Linked DNA regions of Homo sapiens: region 1 is linked to region 2. The links come from fine-mapping of genetic effects on gene expression. A gene starts in region 2. The other region holds a variant in brackets. All regions are shown on one strand. Distances are from middle to middle.

Region 1 (9,863 bases), 120 kb before region 2:
GTGGGTGTTGGTGACATCCCCGGCGTGCGGCGTGGCTGGAGCCCCTGAACCCTGGCTGCGGCCACGTCCTCCTGTCACTTTGGGCTCCTCTGGCTAAAAGAGGAACCCTGCCTCTCCTCTCCCGGGCTCCTCTCTCCCCGCCTCTCCAGCTTGCAGTGTCAACACCACGAACCCACGTGAGCTCCACCCTGGGCTTGCTCTATGTTGATGGTTTCTTTCCCGCCCTCCCCCGTCTCCCAGGTGGCCGGGGGCTCTTCCCATCCCTCCTGACCTTTCCCTCTAGGTTTACTTCCTATGAGGCAGCTCCAGAGCCTCGGAGGGGCGGCTGGAGGTCGAGGGCGCGTGGGGGGCCTGGAGGGTGCAGGGGACGCCGAGGGCGCGGGGCCCAACCTCCGGCCAGCCGCCTGGATTCTGGTCTCTGCTCTGAGCGAGGTGCGTGGGTGCCTCCCTGCTTTTGAGCGGGGATGCAAAGGACCCCCGGGCTGCTGCGCGGAAAAAGGCGGACGGGGATCCAGGGCGCAAGCAGGGATGGAGGGAGAGGCCGACACAGACGGCGGCAGGTGTGCGTGGTGAGGCCGCCCCACGCAGGGATGGGAGGGGCGCGCAAGCCGGGACTTGAACCTGCACTGGCTGAGCTGTGGACGCGGCCTGGCGGCCTCTGCGGAGCGCCCTCTGCGGAGCTGCCTCTGGCACCTGTCCACAGCGTCTGGACACCGGGCGAGGAATGGACCCGGAAGCGTCCCCTGCCCAGGGGGTGCTGCAGGTACCCAGGGGAAGAGCATTCACGGGTGCCAGGCCCAAGGGGCTCACGCCAGAAGTAGACCAATTAGACGACTACAAACGGTGCTCAGTGCTGCAGAAGCAGCCGGGGACAGGCGGCTGTCGGAGAGGGCGCCAGGCATCTCTGGGAAGGGAGAAACAAATTCCACGGGAAGGGGCCAGCAGGTCCCAGGCAGCATGGGCAGAGAGTGTGGGGTCAGGGATGAAGTTGCAGGTGGGTTGGGGAGTGACTTGCAGGCGCGCGTCTAAACCTTATTTCTTCCTGCAGGAAACCATTGGAGCGTTTAAAGCAAGGGAACAGGGCGCGCTCACTACCACAAAAGAACCCTCGGGCTAGGTGGAGAACGGGGCAGGGAGACTGGCGACGAGATGGCCGGGCTGGACTCTCGGAAGGATCTGGGGAAGAACCAAGACTGGCCCAGGATTTGGGCTTGCCTGTCTGCGTCGGGGCTGCCCGTGGAGATGGGGTTCCGGTGAGGAGCAGGAGGATCCAGGCCGGAGGGTGGGTGGTCCCATCTGAAATGTGGACTGACTGCAGGTGGCCACGCCAAGGACACAGTGAGACATGGGCTGGAGGCTGAGCAGGCTGGGGCTGAGGAGCTCGAATGTACTGAGTGGACGTATTAGTTACCCCTTCTTTCTTAATGGCCCCAATTTTGTTCAGGGACCCCTCTCTCCAGTCACCATGCACCTTGGGGGAGGTGGCCCCACTCCTGAGCCCAGGATGGACCTCACTGACCTGAAAGCCCCTTCCCCGTGACGGCGTTTGGATCCTAAATCTAGCCAGTAAGATGTGCAATTTACTGGCAACTTGTTTCCTTATTCCCAAAGCCACACAAAAAGAAACTCGTCTCCCCACCCCCACCCCGAGGTTAAGATGTCTGGCTGCAACACTCCCAGCTGCCGCACACTCCTGCTGCCTGCCAAGGACGCTGCCACCACGGTGGCCCGGCCCGACAGCAGCATGGAGCTCTGCCTTCCTCTGCAGGGGACAGTACATTGCACCTGCCCCCGGGCCCAGGCTGCGGCCTCTGTGCTTCCAGGCTGATGGATTTCAGCTGGCATGGAAAGTGCGGCATTGCACGAAGTAGAAAGGTGTGGGCCTGGAAGAAACTACCCAGTAGCAAAGGGCAGACACTGAAGAGGGCACTGCCCCCACTGGCCTCAGGAAACGGGAGGCGCAGCAGCAGGAGAAGGTCAACTGGGAGCTGAGAGCACGAGAGGACTGAGAATTGGCAAATTACAATCTCCAGGAAGGCAAAGAGAAAAAAGAAACAGAGCAGCAGGGAAGAGAAAGGGCAGATGTAATTGGTCCATACGCAACAGTTAGAAGACTGAGGCTGGCAGAGTGGATTACAAACACCCACCACTCCGTGCTGTCCACAGACAACTCCCTTCAGACAGGGCACAGGCGGGCTAAAAGTCAAAGGATGAAAAACGGCACGTTACACCGACAGGAGTGAAAAAGAAAGAGCTGGAATGCCTTTGTTACTGTCAAAACTTCAGAGCAAAGACAATTACTTGGGTCCAGGGTCCTAATGACAGATCAGTCCAACGAGAAGACACGGTGATCCTAAATGTGCATGCGTGGAGTATGTCCCGTTAGGACAGGGGTGAGGAACAGGCTGCGGCTGCCCACACTTGTAAGCGCCCCACATTTCTGCACGCGTAGCTAACGTTAGAGAGAGTCTTTCTATACACTCACATCCTATGTAGTAAACACAGTGAGCTTCGGCTGGGAAAAGCGGCTGCTCCGGCCGAGGAAATCCTGGTCGTGAATGAAAATGCATCTCTGTGGGCCCTCACAGGCCCACGCAGAGGTGAATGAATTTGGCTGTCTTCTGCATCTGCATCTCCTGGACGCTCACTGATCTGCCCCAGGGCCTGGTGGTTGCTGTCCCAGCTTGGTCCTGCAAGCCCCTCTGGGTGGAGCTGCTCACCCCGTGCTCCGGGGCTCACGCCTGCAGGGAGGCCCAGCCTGTATCAGGATCCTCTTCACAACCTCCTGACCCCACCGGGCGGCCCTGCGGCCCTCCAGCTCCACCAGGGCAGGGCTAAGCCTCTCCGGCTGGCCTGGCATATATGCTCCGAGACATCACACACTTGGATATGGCCTGGGCTGACATAAGTTCCATAAGCACCTGAAGGCTGGTGCACGAGGGTCTCTGGCTAAGCCACTGCACGCTTAGGCTGTGCCCTTCCTTCCTGGCCTATGGTCTCACCTGCTGTCCCTCCTCTCCGTGGTGGAGACACCCACACACCTTCGTCTAAGCAGACCAGCAGTTGACTTGGATCGGAAACGGCTTGTGCCCAAGCAGGCCCAGCAACACACGTGGTCCTTCTTCAGTTGGTTCAATCCAATGCTTTAGAGAAACACGGGATTTTAGCATTATTAAAAGATGTGGATATAGCAAGGAATGGAATACAACAACTTCAGACTTTGGTGGGTGGAGGCGGAATACGTAAACCTCTGACAGCCATGAGGAGACCGAGCCCTGGCTCTCTTGTGGGACCTGCTGACCCCAGCAGAGCCCTGCAGACAATCCACAGATACACGGTGGTCACTTCCATCCAGGGAGTTCTGGCAGGGTTTGTTATGTGGCAACAGCAAGTCAATACCTCATCCTAGTTCTTCCCAGGGCAGTGCTGTGCACAGAGAAGACACAAAATATACTTCGAGTTAATACACATTTACCGAGTATCTGCTAATTTGCAGATGGCGTGCTAAGGACAAGGGAGAGGCTGGTGATCCAGATGGCATAATTCCTGCCCTCAGGGAGCACAGTTAATCATACTTTGATGAGTTCTATGAAGGAAATTCTCAGCAACACAGGATGACGGGTGAGTTAAATGCTATGGTGTTAGGACAGAAAGGGAAATAGGCAGTGTAGAATAGAGACCCTAGAGACCCCAGGTGGAGATCCATGCACACGTGGGAAGTCTGCAAGTAACAGAAGCAGCACTGCAGACCAGTGGAGAGACAGTGAACTCACTGGTGATACTGGAAAAAGAAACTTTCCACATGGCATAAAGTAAAACTGGGTTCCTGCCTAAGCACGCACACCACACACACGATTAGGCCCAGCTGGATTAAAAGCGTGTGTGTGTGTGTGTGCGTGTGCACGCACACACACACACACACGCACACATACACACACACTATTAACTTTATGACCCTGGAGTAGGGAAAGGCTTCTTAAGCAAGTCCAAGACACTCAACAAAGGAGAAGATTGATAGATTTTACTACACAATAATTAAACACCGTAAAAGATACTATTCTAAATAAAGAGTTAAGACAAATGGTAGATTGAAAGAAAATATTTGTAACATATATGACAAAGGATTAATAGCCTTAACAGATCAAGAATATTAATTCCATCAGAAAAAGAGTAAAAATGGGAAGACGACATGAAAAGGCAATGCACAGAGGAGGAAGGCAGCAACATGTTAATCAGTCCCCCATCCACTCGGTGCCTGGCACAGGAGGGGCCCCGCCTCCCGCCAGCCTCTTCCTAGTGCAGACATCACTGCTGCCTAAGGATGAGTCCATCACCATGAAGACCCAACGTTAGCTCCAAACAGCTTCATGGACACAGCTTTGGAGAGAGTGCCATTTTAACAAAATCAAAGTCCTGATACAGGAACATGTATTTTTGCAGTACATCTTGGCAGTCACAGTAATGGCTGTCTCCGCATGAGCATCTGATGTTAATGCTCACTCTGAACCACTAAAACACAAAGGGTGAGCCCCGTGTGCCACAGCCAGCCCCCACGTAGGTGAGAAGGCTTTAGGATCCAATCATATATGAGGCCCGTGTTTCTTTCTCATGCACTTATGGGAACAGACAAAAAACTATGTTTAGAAAAGATGCATTATTGAAGAAATTTTAATTTAAAAAAAATCAAAAGAAAAATTGAACAGTGCCTAAATCTTTATTTTCATAACCTACATTTTTTTTCAAATTAGACAGTTTTACACTGAATGACACAAAAGGAAACTTAAATTACCAATAGTTTACATGTAAGCTTGATTCCAGTCTTAATGAAGCAGAACAAAAACGAAACCCTCGAGGAGCGACCACATGACCCCCGCGCTGTGAGCTGCTGGCGGCCAGCGCCCTCGCCTCGATTGTCTGCAGCCCTGTAGTGGGCCGCGAGGCACGCAAGCCGCAACTACAGCTCGCCAGCGGGGCACACAGACAGGCATGCACCACCACTACCCGTCGCCCGGATACACTGAACTGGTTTTGAAGCCTGAACTGCAGAGATCCTAATATAGCAACGCAGGACGTTTACGGCCACCCGCCAGTGACAGCCGGTGATGTGATGACAGGAGGGCCTGGGTGAAAATGTCAAGACACTCACTCTCAGAGAACGACGACTCCACTTGAAATTCATGTCTGGTGAAACGGGACCAGGTTTTTATTCTTCTATTTCAAAATGATAAGCATCATCACACGATTTTACAAGTTAAAATGCCATTTGTCACTGCTGCATCTCTGATTCTATAACCTGAGATACTGCTGGGGGTAAAGGAGGGTGTTAACTTAAAAAAAAAAAAAGTATGAAAGCCACTCTCATCGCTGTATGTGACACAGCACAGTTGGCATGGACCGCCACAGCTTCCTATTATGATAACTCTCATTTTCTTCTGAGCAGAAACTCTTGAAGTAGTATCAGGTTTTTTCAGACATTATATAGCAATCTGTATTTCACCTTTAATTAAAAAGGATGCTATAAAAATCACCTCCGAGCAACGTTTCAGTTCTTGATGCAGAAGACTGCTGCTGGCTAGGCAGTAACTACAGTGTATTGACCGGAGGGCAGCAGAGCCCTCCAGTGGCGACTGGCTAATGCACGCGCTGCCCTCCTCATGCAGCTGTTGAGCTCCCACTTCGGTCGACAAAGTGAAGGACTAAGCTGGCTCTAACCACACACACACACTGCGCTGCAATGCTCACACCTTGGGGGAAAGGACTTCTCATTATTAAAAACCAAGGACTCACTGGCGGACGGGCAGGCCTTGTGTTTTGGGAATGGCTGATGGCGCCCTGGCCCTTCCGTAGCGAAGATGCAGCTCGTAGGCCCAGGCCTCGAGGTTGCCTCCCAGCTTTCTGAGTATTGAGAGTTTGGGTTTCACAGATCAATTATTTCTGATTTTTTTTTTTTTTTTGGTCAGTGAACTGACAACTACAAAAAAAAATCCCCATGTTCTTTAAAATGCATTTGAAAAACACTAGCCCTGTGGCTATTTCTCTGTATTTGAATAATGGCAACTGCTTTAAAGGAAATGGTCAAATAGGCATGTTTTCCTCTGGCAGGGTCAATCATGCTTAGCTGCAGGTGATTT[A/T]AATTAGATTACTAGTCACCTTCACTTACGATCCTGCCAGTTTTTGCTCTCTATATACTTTAAAACTCTTTCACATTAGATATGATTAGTATGCATTTACATACATTTTAAAAGAGTATGAAAACATCTGGAGGCTTTTAATAAGACTTTCCAATTCCCTTTTGCAGCAAAGAGGCAGAATCAGTTCAACACACCGATGTAAGAGAAAAAAGAAAATCTCAACAAATCAAAATAATATTCAAACCACAACATTTAGTTTATCTACATCCCGCTCAACAGCAACATTTATAATATATCAATAATCTGTATCAGAATTTTCTCTGTAGGGTACCTTTTTCATATGTTCTGATTATTTACAACTGTACAAGCGAAGCACACTCCAAGTGCACGTATTTAATACAGTATTGACTATTTGCATTTACAGGATTTTCCAACATTCTGAAAAAAGATCAACTGTTGAAGATCTTTAAGGTATATTACAAAAACTACTACTAGCTCTTGTACTACAGTATGCTTACTCAGTAAAACTAGCGACAGGAGATCCACGCAGTAACTGAGTAACTCTGACCCACTCACGCCAACCCAGGGCCGGGCTCCATGGACTCTAAGCTGTCTTATACAAAAGTTAAGGCAAAGTCATTTTCAAGTTTAAATAAAATTCAAGTCTTTAAATATTGGATGGAAATAATTTTTTCTTAAAAAAAACCCTCAGTCTTGTTAAATAACATTTTGTGGAATAAAGTGTATGGTTACATTTAGCAGGAAATATTCTTATTTTAATGTTTGCTGCTTAGAATAAAGAAAAATTTGAGGCATTTTAAAACAAAATAATTTATATTTAACTTTATTATAAACTTGCTAACTTTAGTGCATCCTTGTTCTTCAGAAGTGCAGCACTTCTGGAAGTGAATCAATGAGGCCCTCGTCTTGGAGGTAAAAGAGCAGGAACTTTATCCTCCACCAGCCAAAGAGGGGGAAAAACCACAAACACCATTCTCTCACGATTACATAACTCTTAAATCCATGTGCTGATGCAGAGGTACAGGGAGATGTCCACACGGAGCTGAAGATGTGGACTCTCTCCAACCAGAGTGCTGGGGAACACGGACAGAAATGTGCACAGAGCAGGGCCGGGGCCATCAGCTCACAGGGGTCAAAACAACATCATGGTACAACTTCTGGTAACATGTCAGTGGGCAACAAAGTGTATGTTTTCATGTAGGTTCTATTCACAATGTGCTTTGAATTTATATTACATAATAGCCACTTGAAACTGGAGTGAGAAGCTGGTTACTTGCTTGCAGTGCATCAGAACCAAGGTTTCTGGGGTGGCCCCTGCAGGTTCACTCCGCCCAGGAGATCAAAAAGGATGCGCTCTCTACATTCTTAAATGCCACAGTCCCCTACCAACGGCTTAGGTGGAAGCACAGCTCCCACATCAGCACTGATGCCCTGGCGCGGCCAGCACTGCCTCTACGAGGCCACACCTGCCTCTGCCAAGGCCACTGGCCCTCATTCATCTGCGGGGACGTTCTAGAGATATGCACTTACAGACCAGTTACTTAAAAAAAAAAAAAAAAAGCAGAGTTCCCTTAATTTAGAAAAACTCACTATATATAGCTTGCATTCAGAGCCACATGGAGGCTTAATAAAAAATACCAATTTGTTAGGATAAATGCTTTTTCTATCTTGGAAAAAAAAATCAGACTTATGCATCACCTCCAGTTAAGCACCAACCTAAAATAAGGTTTGTATTAATTAAATCCTGAAAAATCGATTTTTTTTCAAGAGGGGGAGAATCCAACTCACAGAAGAAAACCAACTTGAGGATCCCACAGGCCTCAGACACTGCAAGCTCCTAACCAGCGGCTCGCCCTCGCACTGAGTGGGAGAGTGTCTCGTTTGTGGTTAACACAGCGCTCTGCGACCCCTCCCAGACGTACGGTTTTCACTGAGGAGACTTGGGGGGAGTGCTCTGCTCTCGGCTGAGACGCTTCCCCATGGCCGAGGGCGAGGGCCGGCCCCCCGCCGGCCGCCTCTGGTCTCTGGGGGCTCCAGGTGTGGACTTGAGGGCTGGGGGCTCCCGGTATCTCTCTGCGGGCTCTGCCAGCTTCTTTTCCTCCTTCCCACAACCAACAGTGTTTGGCTTTTGTTCTTTTTGGGGTTGCAATGGGGAAGAAGGAGGCTCTTTACTCGTTCTCTGACAAATCTCTGCGTAGCTGGGCTTTCGCAATTCCTGGAAACAGACAATCCTGGGTTACCTGTGTGAAATGGTGTCTCTAGGGACAAGACAGGAAATCAAGTTCACTTAAGATAAAAGAGTTTTCAACTGTAACTAAGTTTCCATCTTCACTAGTGTTTTTAACTTTTAAAAAGTTCATAAAATCTAATGATTTAGTTTCCCCTGCAGCAGAACACTCCCTCTGTGCTACTGTAGTAATGGATAAAATTAGAAAAGGCATGACGAAGAAGAGTGCTGACTCAACACCATCCCTACCCAGCCCTATGCCTGCTTGGGCAATGCGGAAGCCTAGGAAGAGTCCGGATGCTGCCCACACTGGCTCCGCCAGCTCAGGACAACAGAAGGGTGTCCCAGGTGCCCACGGTGGGCAATGGACCCTCACACGGTACTCAACCCTGAAAGGCAAACTCCAAAAACAGTCTTTAAATAAAAATGTTTTGCACATTTCAAACTACAAAGGACTGGAAATATCTAAGAATGATGAAGACAGCTAAAATCTTCAAGAAATGTGTAATAGGGTTTTCAGGTAAGTGGAAGCATAAAGACTAAATAACAGAAAAGTAAAATATTTCCCTTAATAACTTTTTTTTTTTTTTTTTTGAGACACAGTCTCACTCTGTCGCACAGGCTGGAGTGCAGCAGTGCAATCTCAGCTCACTGCAACCTCTGCCTTCCGGGTTCAAGTGATTCTCCTGCCTCAGCCTCCTGAGTAGCTGGGACTACAGGTGCCCACCACCAAACCCAGCTAATTTTTTGTATTTTCAGTAGAGACAGGGTTTCACCATGTTGTTCAGGACTGTCTGGATCTCCTGACCGCATGATCTGCCTACCTCGGCCTCCCAAAGTGCTGGGATTACAGGCGTGAGCCACAGCACCTGGCCTCTTTTATTATTATTATTATTTATTATTAAAATTATTAATTTTAACCTATAAAAAATCCTTTTTTAGACTCAGCCCAGGGGACAGTAAGGGATTAAACTCCCAAATTCAAGGAAAAGGCTCCCCCAAGATCAAACTACAGAGGCCACAACTCAGAGTAAGAGAGGCCACAGTTCACCCAGTAGGGAAAACAGCAGAAAGGAAGTCGCTGGGGTTCAGGCCTGCTGGGCCCACAGGGGTTGGAGGCTGGTGGGGCCACCATCTTGCTCTTCCTGTCTCTTCATCAGACACACGATGCGCGCGCACGCACGCAAACATACACACACGCGCGAAATGCTGAAATGATCCTAAAGTCTATGGAGAAACAGGAGCTGGGGTCTTGTTACTACTCAAGAAACCTCTATTGACCAACACTGAAATAAAAGGACTACATGGTGGTCTGAGAAAGAACTAGAGTAGTTAGTGGAAAATTATTAGCAAATATTAAAGGTATTTTGTACAGAAAACACAACACAGACAGACGCAAATAAAAACCCACCAAATTAGATGTGATTAAAAAACGAGCAGGTGCAGGAGTGCGCAGCGTCTGTTCACACCAGAGCCTCGCGGCT
Region 2 (9,863 bases):
AGTGAAACCCAATTTGTACTAAAGTACAAAAATTAGCCGGGCGTGGTGGCACGCACCTGTATGTAGTCCCAGCTACTCAGGAGGCTGAGGCAGGGGAATCGCTTAAACCCTGGAGGCAGAGGTTGCAGTGAGCCGTGATCGTGCCAGTGCGCTCCAGCCTGGGCAACAGAACGAGACTCGGTCTCAAAAAAAAAAAAAAAAATTGTGTTAAACATGAAATACTTTCAATATTGCAATGTACTCCATGGTCTAGGTCTCCTAACCAGGGCAATGGGGTTGATGGGAAAGAAGATGTAAAACCAGTAGCATCACTGAACTGCAAATCCTTTATGGTTGAAATAGGAGCCATGACAGCTTCACCAGAAAAACTATGAGAAGACAGAGTTTATAAAGGCATTGAAGGGACAAAAGGTATTAAGGTATGGGGTGGCGGGGGGGCAGTGAGAAAGAGAAGGGAAGGAAACACAGCTGAGTTAATAATTTTCCTTGTTCCTAAGGAAGGCATTTACACACAGGAAAAACAAAGCATTAGAACGTTAGGGGAAAAAACTTTCAAGTTGGAATTTATCTCCCTTCTTTTGAGAACCTAGCAGTTTTCTACCTTACAATTCCATGTTCTAAAAAAGGAATTCATTTTCCAATCAAAATAACTCTAGAAGTAGAGTAGTTACAAAGATATCAACCAGCATAAGAGCAAAAAGTTTAAACTGAACTAAACTCAGACCTGATGAGGTTAACTCTCTGAGTGCCTCATTTACTTCGTACTCTAAAATAAGCTTTTACAGAAAAAGGAGAACTCTTCACATCAATAAAGTTCTACAAAAGAGCATAAGCAAGGAAACCCTTACAGCAGTGTCTGTTTTTAACAAGGTATTTTCCAAAAACATGACTTCAGTGTTCATGTCTTCTCCCCATTGGAAAAAGGTTGTTTTGAGAATTTTGTAGAAGAAATTACAAGAATATACTCCAAGATTTTTGTGCAATTTATCAATCTGAAAAGAATATCCCTAAATCTGACAGAATCTATAAGAGTACTGTATGCATGATAAAAGCATATTTAAAACTTGTACCTTTGGCCAGGTACGCCGTGGCTCACGCCTGCAATCCCAGCACTTTGGGAGGCCGAGGCGGGCGAATCACCTGCGGTCAGGAGTTCAAGACCAGCCTGGCCAACATGGTGAAATCCCAACTCTACTAAAAATACAAAAAAAAAAAAAATTAGCCAGGTGTGGTGGAGGGCACCTGTAATCCCAGCTACTCGGGAGGCTGAGGCAGGAGAATCACCTGAACCCGAGAGGCGGAGGATGCAGTGAGCCAAGAACGCACCATTGCACTCCAGCTTGGGCGACAAGAGTGAAAGTCCGCCTCAGGAAAGAAAAAAAAAAAAAAACTTGTACCTTTAACACTAGGATAAAAACAAATGAAATCGATTGATGGTAACACATCTATACAGCTTTTTTACAACTTTGAGAGGCCCTAACATAGACAACACGTTACTAAGATTAGAAGACCTAGATTATAATCCTAGCTATCACTATTTTGACGGAAAATATGAATTTTAACATGACAATGAAATAACAGTGAAAGGAGTTTGTCAGCCACTCCTTGGCTGGTAACATCTACCATAGCCTATCACTACAAAAACTTGCAAATCTATGTAGAGTAGCTGCAGCTACCTGAAGGCACTGTTCATTGTAAACACCATTAACAATTTGATGTCCCAATTTGCATGTTTTGGGGGTGGGGGGAGACAAGGTCTCACTGTTGTCCAGGATGGAGTGCAGTGGCAGGATCATGGCTCACTGCAGCCTCAACCTCCCAAGCTCAAGCGATCTTCCCACTTCAGCTTCTCCAACAGCTGGACTACAGGTGTGAGCCACCATGCCTGGCTAATTTTTTGATTTTTTGGTAGAGATGAGGTCTCTCTATGTTGCCCAGGCTGGTGAACTCCTGGGCTCCTAAACTCACCTAGGCCTCCCAAAGTGCTGGGATTACAGGAATGAGCCACCTCACCCAGCCTGCACGTATTTTAGAACTACATTTTAAGATAATGTGAAGACTGCTTCATAAAAACACCTTAAATATATACTTGTCAAAACTTGTGCTTACTTATGGAAATTGCATTAAATTCAATAAATTCTTTAAATCTCACTTTTAAAAATGGCAATCTTCCCGAACATTAAACCAAATTACATTTCTCCCTGAATTTGCTGCCACTTAATTTCAGCTACTCTTCTACAGAATAGTACCCATGTTATCTTTTTTTCTGTCTGGTTCCTACTCAAAAAGAGTGGAACTGCTTTCTCCAAATATGCATTCTGTGCTCAGAAGCTGTTTTCTCTGCCCAGATACATGTGTAAACAAGCCAAAAAAAACAAAACAAAAAAACAAAAACAAAAACAAAACTTTCTGCTAATAGATTGACAGCTACAAGGTAGAATATTTTAAAAATTCAGTAAGCTGGGCGCAGTGGCTCACTCCTGTAATCCCAACACTTTGAGAGGCCAAGGCAGGTGGATCACTTGAGGCCAGGAGTTCGAGACCAGCCTGGGCAACATGCTGAAACCCCGTCTCTACTAAAAATACAAAAATTAGCCAGGTGTGGTGGCATGTGCCTGTAAATCCCAGCTACTCGGGGGGCTGAGGCAGGAGAATAACTTGAAGACCTAGGAGGTGGAGGTTGTAGTGAGTTGAGATCGTGTCACTGCACTCCATCCTGGGTGACAGAACAAGACTCCAACTCGGGGGGGGAAGAAAAAAATCAGTAATAGTGAAAATAGCAAAACCAGACAACATTTCCATGTTTGTGTTACAACAGTCCTAAGAAAATGAGATTATCATCATCCCCCTGTTACAATTGAGAAAATGTAGGCAACACGAGGGTAACTTCTAATGAATAAGCCATGCCTTTGTTTCATATAAATAAGTCAACTCAACTCACATTAACTTTTCAAAATACCGGATAAAATTTATTTCTAACCAATGCAAGTTTCAAAGATAAGTACACAAATTAAATTTATGATTAAATAATAAGCTTGTTAATCTGATGCCTTTCGGAACGCATTTCACTTAGCAAACCTCAATTAAGCTATTTCTTATATGGTTTGATTACAAAACTGCCTTTCAGCATATTAAATACAAGGAGAAAAAACTGAAAAGCCACAACGATTTCAACTTCTGTAAATTACCCTGACTGTAATGAGGGGCGCCAGGCAGGTTGGGGAAGTATGGAAATTGCACACTGCACACACCACCTGACCACCAAGAAAAAAGAGGACACCACTCTTCCCCACTGTGGTCTTCACAAACTACAACTCAGCACCTATTTCAAGTGCATTTAAATATTCAAACAACTGAAACTAAGAGAAAAAAACTTTCGAAAGGGAAAATAACTTGTCTGTCCCCTTCAATGTTCACCTTGGAGTTGCTCTCATCTCTAGAAAAAGGCCTCACGCATACTGTTTATACTTACAAACTCCACTGCCCTGTCAAGGAAAACCTTCCTGTTTTCTCAGTTATCCAAAACTTCAAACTTCCAATTTACTATTAAGACAAGTTATTGGGCATCCACTTAGAGAATCTCAAACGAAAGCCAGATAGGAGGTAGTTTTCTACAGCTAGGTTTCTCAAGTTTCATCTCAGCCAAGTTTTAAGAACGTTTTACGTAAAAATAAGGGGAAAAGCAAAATTACATTCGCATGAAGTTTCGACGCACAACGGCACTGAAACGGAAAGACTCTTCACGTTCCCAAGCGCACCCTGAGAGGCAGGTGCAGCAGCTTTCCGATGGCTTCTCTGCCGCCCATGTATCCCAGCCCCAAGACCAACACAGGCAATCTTCACATCTGACTTTATTTTTTTAACTCCTTCAGATCCACCTCTGCTCAAGTCTATCAACAGGAAAACAGGAGCGTTCCAAACACACACCGAGCAACAGGATCCCAACTTCCTGGTTCTAAAGGAATGCGATGCCCTGATGACCCGTCCCGCCCCGCACCCGCACGGCCGCCTATCCGGGCTCCGGCGGGACCGAGGAGCGAGTGGCAAGGCTGGCGCCGCACTGCGGGTGCCGGCGCCCGCCCGGCCTGGGGGCGCTCGCGGCCCGCGACCCCGGCCCCGCCCAGGCCCTGCCCGACCCCCGTCCTCGCCGGCCTTCGCCCAACCCCGGCCTCCCGACCCTGACCCCGGCCCGGTCTTCCGGGCACCCAGCTCCGTCGACTCCCGCCTCGCCTCAACGGGTCCTCCTAAGCCCCGGCCCCGGCCTTCCCCTGCCCCGGCCTCGGCCATCCTCAGCCCCAGTTTTCCCCTGCCCCGGCCCCGGTCCTCCTCAGCCCCGGCTTTTTCCTGGCCCTGACCCCGGTCCTCCTCAGCCCTGGCCCTTCCCGTGCCCTAGCCCCGGTCCTCCTCAACCCGGCCCCGGCCTTCCCCTGCCCCGGCCCCGGCCCCGGCCCAGGCCCGGCCCTGCCCGCCGCGGCCGCGTCCTCCGGGAAGATGGCGGCGCAGTGACAGGCGGCGCGGCGCGGGTCCGAGCTGGGCCGGGAGGGACGGCCCGCCGCGGCCCAGGGTGCCTCACCTGTCAGCGCCGCCGCCCCGCCCGACCGGCCGCCCGCGGGCTCCTCGCCTCAACCCCGGGGCCCGGCGGCCGCGCCACACGCGGGGACGGCGAGGAGAGAGACGGCAGGGAGAGGCGGCGCGGCCGGGCCGGGCCGGGCCGGAGGTAGGGGAGAGGGCGGGCGCGAGCTGGCGGCGGCGGCGGCGGCGGATTCTTCCCCTTTCGGGCCCGAAAATGTCTCAACCCCGGGACTCCAGATCCCCAACGCTCCTTCCCGTTCGCATGAGAACACACAGCTCCCACTTCCGGGGCCCTGCGGAAGTCCCGCCCCCGCGCGGACCCGCGCCTCGCGCCCTGAACTCGCGCACTCACCCGCCGGTCCCGCGGACTGGCGCTCAGCCCCGGGAGAGCCTCACGTCATGGTGTTGCGGCGCGCTGATTGGGCGCACCCGACGCTCGGCCCGCCCCGCCGCCTTCTTGGCCTCTCCGCGCGTACACCCTGCTCGCGGCCTTGCGATTGGCGCGTGCGCGCACATCGCCCCGCCCCGCGCACGCCGCACGTCCGCCCCGCCCGCCCCGCCCGCCCCGCCCGCCGTCCCCGGCGCGACCGGAGCGCCTGACGCTGGGGGGCCGTGTGGGCCCTGACTTCCGGAGGGCTGGGCCCTGGTCCTCCGCCACCGCGTGCGCCCCTTAAAGACCCCTGCCCGCCGCCCAGGACGGATGGCGACCCCGGCCCTAGCCTGTCCCCAGACCCTGGACCAAGGCCCCGGCCCTGCCCCGAACCCCTCATCCCACCCCCAGGACCCAGGCCCCGACCCTGGCCACCCAGGACACGCCCTGGCCCTTCCCCGAACTCCCACCCCACAGCTGGGATCAAGGTCCCGGCCCTGCCCGGAACACCTCACCCCACACCCGGGACCCAGGCCCCGGCCCTGCCCCGAACTCCCACCCCACACCCGGGACCAAGGCCCCGGCCCTGCCCCGAACCCCTCACCCCACCCCCGGGACCAAGGCCCCGGCCCTGCCCAGAACTCCCACCCCACACCCGGGACCAAGGCCCCGGCCCTGCCCAGAACTCCCACCCCACACCCGGGACCAAGGCCCCGGCCCTGCCCCGAAGGCCCCACCGGGGACCCAGGCCCCGGCCCTGCCCCAAACTCCCACCCCACACCCGGGACCAAGGCCCCGGCCCTGCCCCGAACGCCCCACCCGGGACCCAGGCCCCGGCCCTGCCCCAAACTCCCACCCCACACCCGGGACCAAGGCCCCGGCACTGCCCCGAACGCCCCACCAGGGACCCAGGCCCCAGCCCTGTCCCGAACTCCCGCCCCACACCTGAGACGAAGGTCCCGGCCCCGAAGTCCCAACCCCACACCCGGGACCAAGGCCCCGGCACTGCCCCGAACCCCCGCCCCACACCCCTAACCAAGGCCTCGGCTCAGCCCCGGAATCCCCAACCCCACACCTGGGATCAAGGCCCCGGCCCTTCCCCAAACCCCCAACCCACACCCGGGACCAAAAGGCCCCGGCCCCACGTTTCCTAGAGGCGCTGGGTTCGGGCCCACGTTGCAACGAGTCAGATGCTCTTGGTAGCTCAGGGAGGTGTTCACACTCCTGCCGTTTCCGTGAGGATGGTGACGACTCCGAACTATAGCAGCATACTCTACCTACCCCTGATCAGTTTATGGAAGAAAAGGAAACCAAACAAAGTATGTTGCGTTTCCCTTAAGCTTGCTGCCTGATTTTCTGGTTTCTGCTCTGATTGGCTACATATACACATATTATCAATTATTCCAAATTTTAGGTTTGTTCCCCCATTAAAACGGCTTTTCAGGGATACCATATTCATGGTTAACCGTGTACCTGTGCTTACAACTGCTTTTTTAATTTTGTTTTTTGATACAGGGTCTTGCTCTATGCAGGTCTGCACTCTGAGCTCAGAGTGCTGTCTCGGGCCCCCAAAATCTGGGATTAGAGATGGGAGCCGGTGTACCCAGCCTGTGCTTATAATTTTTCGTACTCAGCGTTCAAATGCTGACAATTCTGCATTTTGGAAGAAAGCCTCTCCGGCTTCCCATAGTGGGTAGACTGTTGACATCAAGGTTGGGTGCCTTCTTTGTGAAACCTTGTTGCATCCTAGCTTTAAGGGAATTTGCAAGTTAAATAATTATATTCATAGTAATGTTTTTAAAGAACATTTAACGACATAAGACACATTTCCTTTAATATTAAAAGCATGTACATATTTCAGAAAACTTGCTTACCTGGACAACCTGCCCTGACCAGTAGGCCATAGTGTCCTTGCTTAGGTGCCTGGTTCCTTTACCTCCACGGATAACCTACAGGAGCTTACTCTTGGTTCATAACATTGCTAGGGCCATTGATGTGGTATAAGTCTAGGAATTCTGCCCCAAAATTGGTAGGTTAAACTTTTTTTTTTTTTTGAGACTGACTCTCCCTCTGTCACCCCGGCTGGAGTGCCGTGGCATAATCTCGGCTCACTGCAACCTCAGTCTCCCGGGTTCAAGTGATTCTCCTGCCTCAGCCTCCGGAGTAGCTGAGACTACAGCCGCATGCCACCACGCCCAGCTAATTTTTTGTATTTTTAGTAGAGATGGGGTTTCACCGTGTTAGCCAGAATGGTCTTGATCTCCTGACCTCGTGATCCGCCTGCCTCAGCCTCCCTAAGTGCTGGGATTACAGGCGTGAGCCACCGTTCCCGGCTGGTAGGTTAAACTTCAATCTTTTTTGTCTATGTCTACATTCCAGCAGACATCTATGTCTTACCTATTACAAAAGAAAGTAATGGGATGGGTTCAGTGGCTCATGCCTGTAATCCCAGCACTTTAGGAGGCCAAGGCAGGCAGATCGCCCAAGGCCAAGAGTTCAAGACCAGTCTGGGCAATATGTCAAAGCCCCATTTCTTTAAAAAATTATACAAAAGTAGCCGGGCATGTGGTGCATGGCTGTGGTTCCAGCTACTCAGGAGGCTGAGGTGGGAGGATCGCTTGAGGTTGAGGCTGCAGTGAGCTGTGATTGTGCCACCGCATTCCAGCCTGGGTGACAGAGCGAGACCCTGTCTCAAAAAAAGAAAAAGAAAAAAACTAAAACTAAAAGAATTCCATCTCTTCTTTCTCTTCGTATTGTGTAATCCTTTCCAACAATCAGAACTGGGCTTTTTGTTCCCTCATGATCTTCTTTTTTTCAAACCTGTGTCTCAGAAGAAACATCCATTTTCACCTTGAGATGTGAGGTTATAACATGAAATACATTTTCATGGCATCTCTCCTTAGACAAGATCAGTTTTTTAAAACTTTAGTATAAATTTCTCAAACCATGATCAGATACACTCCCTCATTTCCCATGTCAAGTGGTTACAAATTCTGTCAATCCTACCTAAAAACTCTTTCCTTCTCCCCGTCCCCCCAGTGGTTTTGCCGTTGTTACTGCTCACCTGGTTTGATTCAGTGGCGTCGCGGTTGGTCTCTGCTACAGTCCATTACTCACAGTGCCAGCACATGTTTCCTTAAAAAGCTTCATCACCATCCTCCTGCAATGCGACCTTCACCGGCTCCCCGTTGCCTGCCCAGGAGGATAAAGTCCAAGTTCTCCTGTGGAAAGAAGACCCTTCACACGCTAGTCCCAGCCTGTCTTCAGCCCAGCCCCCTGTGTTTCCTTTCCTGCCTTATCCTAAGACATCCTTACCTTCCAATCACACTCACTTTCCGAGCATTTTTGAAGGTATTGAGGGAGTTGATGAGTCTACACTTGAATAAAATACAGACTTTACACTCCAGACTGCACAGTTGACAGGTAAGTCCACAGTTCATAGTGTGGACAGTCCTATACAAAGAAATGGAGAGGTGCCCCAGCTCCAGACGCTGCGCTGCTCTGGAAGTCGAGGGCGGCATTCTTTTGGAGCCTGAGCACTTAGGTCCTAATGGATGTGAGTCCCCTGGCCTCAAATGTGCTTCCTGTACTTGGATGTCTCCTTCTGGCGGAATCTCGCTTATTTTTCAAGTTACAGCCCAAATGTCAACCACTGAAGTGTTTTAGACAGTTGATTTTCCTTCTGGGCCCTATTATTAGCACTTGTTTGTAGCTCTGTTGAGCTACATCACATCATACAATTTTCAGCTGACACTACTGTCATCCCAAAGAAATGGTCAGGCCTCAAGGGCAGAGGCAGCGAGGGCAGTGATCTTGGGACAAAGTCTCTACCAAACAAATACAGCATGTGTATTTCTCTAGCAGAGGCCTACATTTCAAGTGGTGTCTGAGAACATTCTTTTCTTTTTCTTTTTTCTTTTCTTTTCTTTTTTTTTTTTTTTTTTTTGAGTCTCCCTCTGTCTCCCAGGCTGGAGTGCAGTGGCACAATCTTGGCTCACTGCAACCTGCGCCTACCGAGTTCAAGTGATTCTCCTGCCTCAGCCTCCCGAGTAGCTGGGATTACAGGGATGCACCATGATGCCCAGCTAATTTTTGTTGTTTTTTTTTTTTGTTTGTTTTTTGTTTTTAGTAGAGTCAGGGTTTCACCATGTTGGTCAGGCTGGTCTCGAACTCCTGACCTCAAGTAATCTACCTGCCTCCGCCTCCCAAAAATGCTGGGATTACAGGTGAACATTCTTTTATTTTATCCCGAAGCATTTTCTGTGAAAAAATAAACACTACTTCTCCAATGTGTAGCCGCATTGCTCAAAAATTCATTTTTGATGATTTAGGACTATTCCTTTGCCCATTGATTAAACAAATATTCACTGAGTACCTACGCGGTCTCAGGGACTGCTAATGTTGCAGAGATCAGGGGAGCATCACAGATGAGAAGCAGGTAACGAGGGATGGAGGGTGAGGATGAGGGATGGAGGGTGAGGTGAGGCTGTGTAGAGTGCTTGGGTGGCTCACAAGCGGGGTCCAAGCCAACTTAAGAAGGAACCAGAAAATGATGACTAAGCCGGGGCCAGAGACAAACCATCCACGAGAAGGACACAGGTGGGAAGAAGGAGGCAGTGAGTCACGATTTACTACGAGGCAGGCCAGACACAGTAGCTCAAACCTATAATCCCAGCATGTTGGGAGGCCGAGGCGGGTGTATCATCTAATGTCAGGAGTTCGAGACCAGCCTGGCCAACATGGTGAAACACCTGTCTCTAGCAAAAATACAAAAAAATTAGCTGGGCGTGGTGGCGGTCGCCTGTAGTCCCAGCTACTCGTGAGGCTGAGGCAGAAGAATTGCTTAAACCCAGGAGGCTGAGGTTGCAGTGAGCGAGATCGTGCCATTGCACTCCAGTCTGGGCAACAAGAGTGAAACTGT

The links. PIP is the estimated chance that this variant, and not a neighbour inherited with it, causes the effect.
Region 1: its variant is fine-mapped to the expression of LARP4B in whole blood (TOPMed, PIP above 0.99).

The regions. Positions count from the first base shown.
Region 1 is chr10:804,847-814,709 of GRCh38, forward strand. LARP4B (La ribonucleoprotein 4B) reads right to left here. Exons shown (of 18, transcript NM_015155.3): 18 at 4,651-8,367. The coding sequence ends at 8,080. Among named protein-coding and RNA genes, the nearest start is that of DIP2C, 120 kb to the left of the region's middle. RefSeq lists enhancers at 4,448-4,948, 4,949-5,449, 9,366-9,863 and a silencer at 4,506-4,711. The variant A/T (reference allele first, on the strand shown) is at 6,132.
Region 2 is chr10:926,855-936,717 of GRCh38, forward strand. It overlaps LARP4B (La ribonucleoprotein 4B), which reads right to left and starts at 4,851. Exons shown (of 18, transcript NM_015155.3): 1 at 4,574-4,851. LOC124902363 (keratinocyte proline-rich protein-like) reads left to right here and starts at 5,137. Exons shown (of 2, transcript XM_047426111.1): 1 at 5,137-6,261; 2 at 7,982-9,235. The coding sequence starts at 5,273. The coding sequence ends at 5,977. It overlaps LARP4B-DT (LARP4B divergent transcript), which reads left to right and starts at 6,172. Exons shown (of 3, transcript NR_120629.1): 1 at 6,172-6,261. RefSeq lists silencers at 4,042-4,171, 4,262-4,341, 4,372-4,481, 4,552-5,261, 5,342-5,431.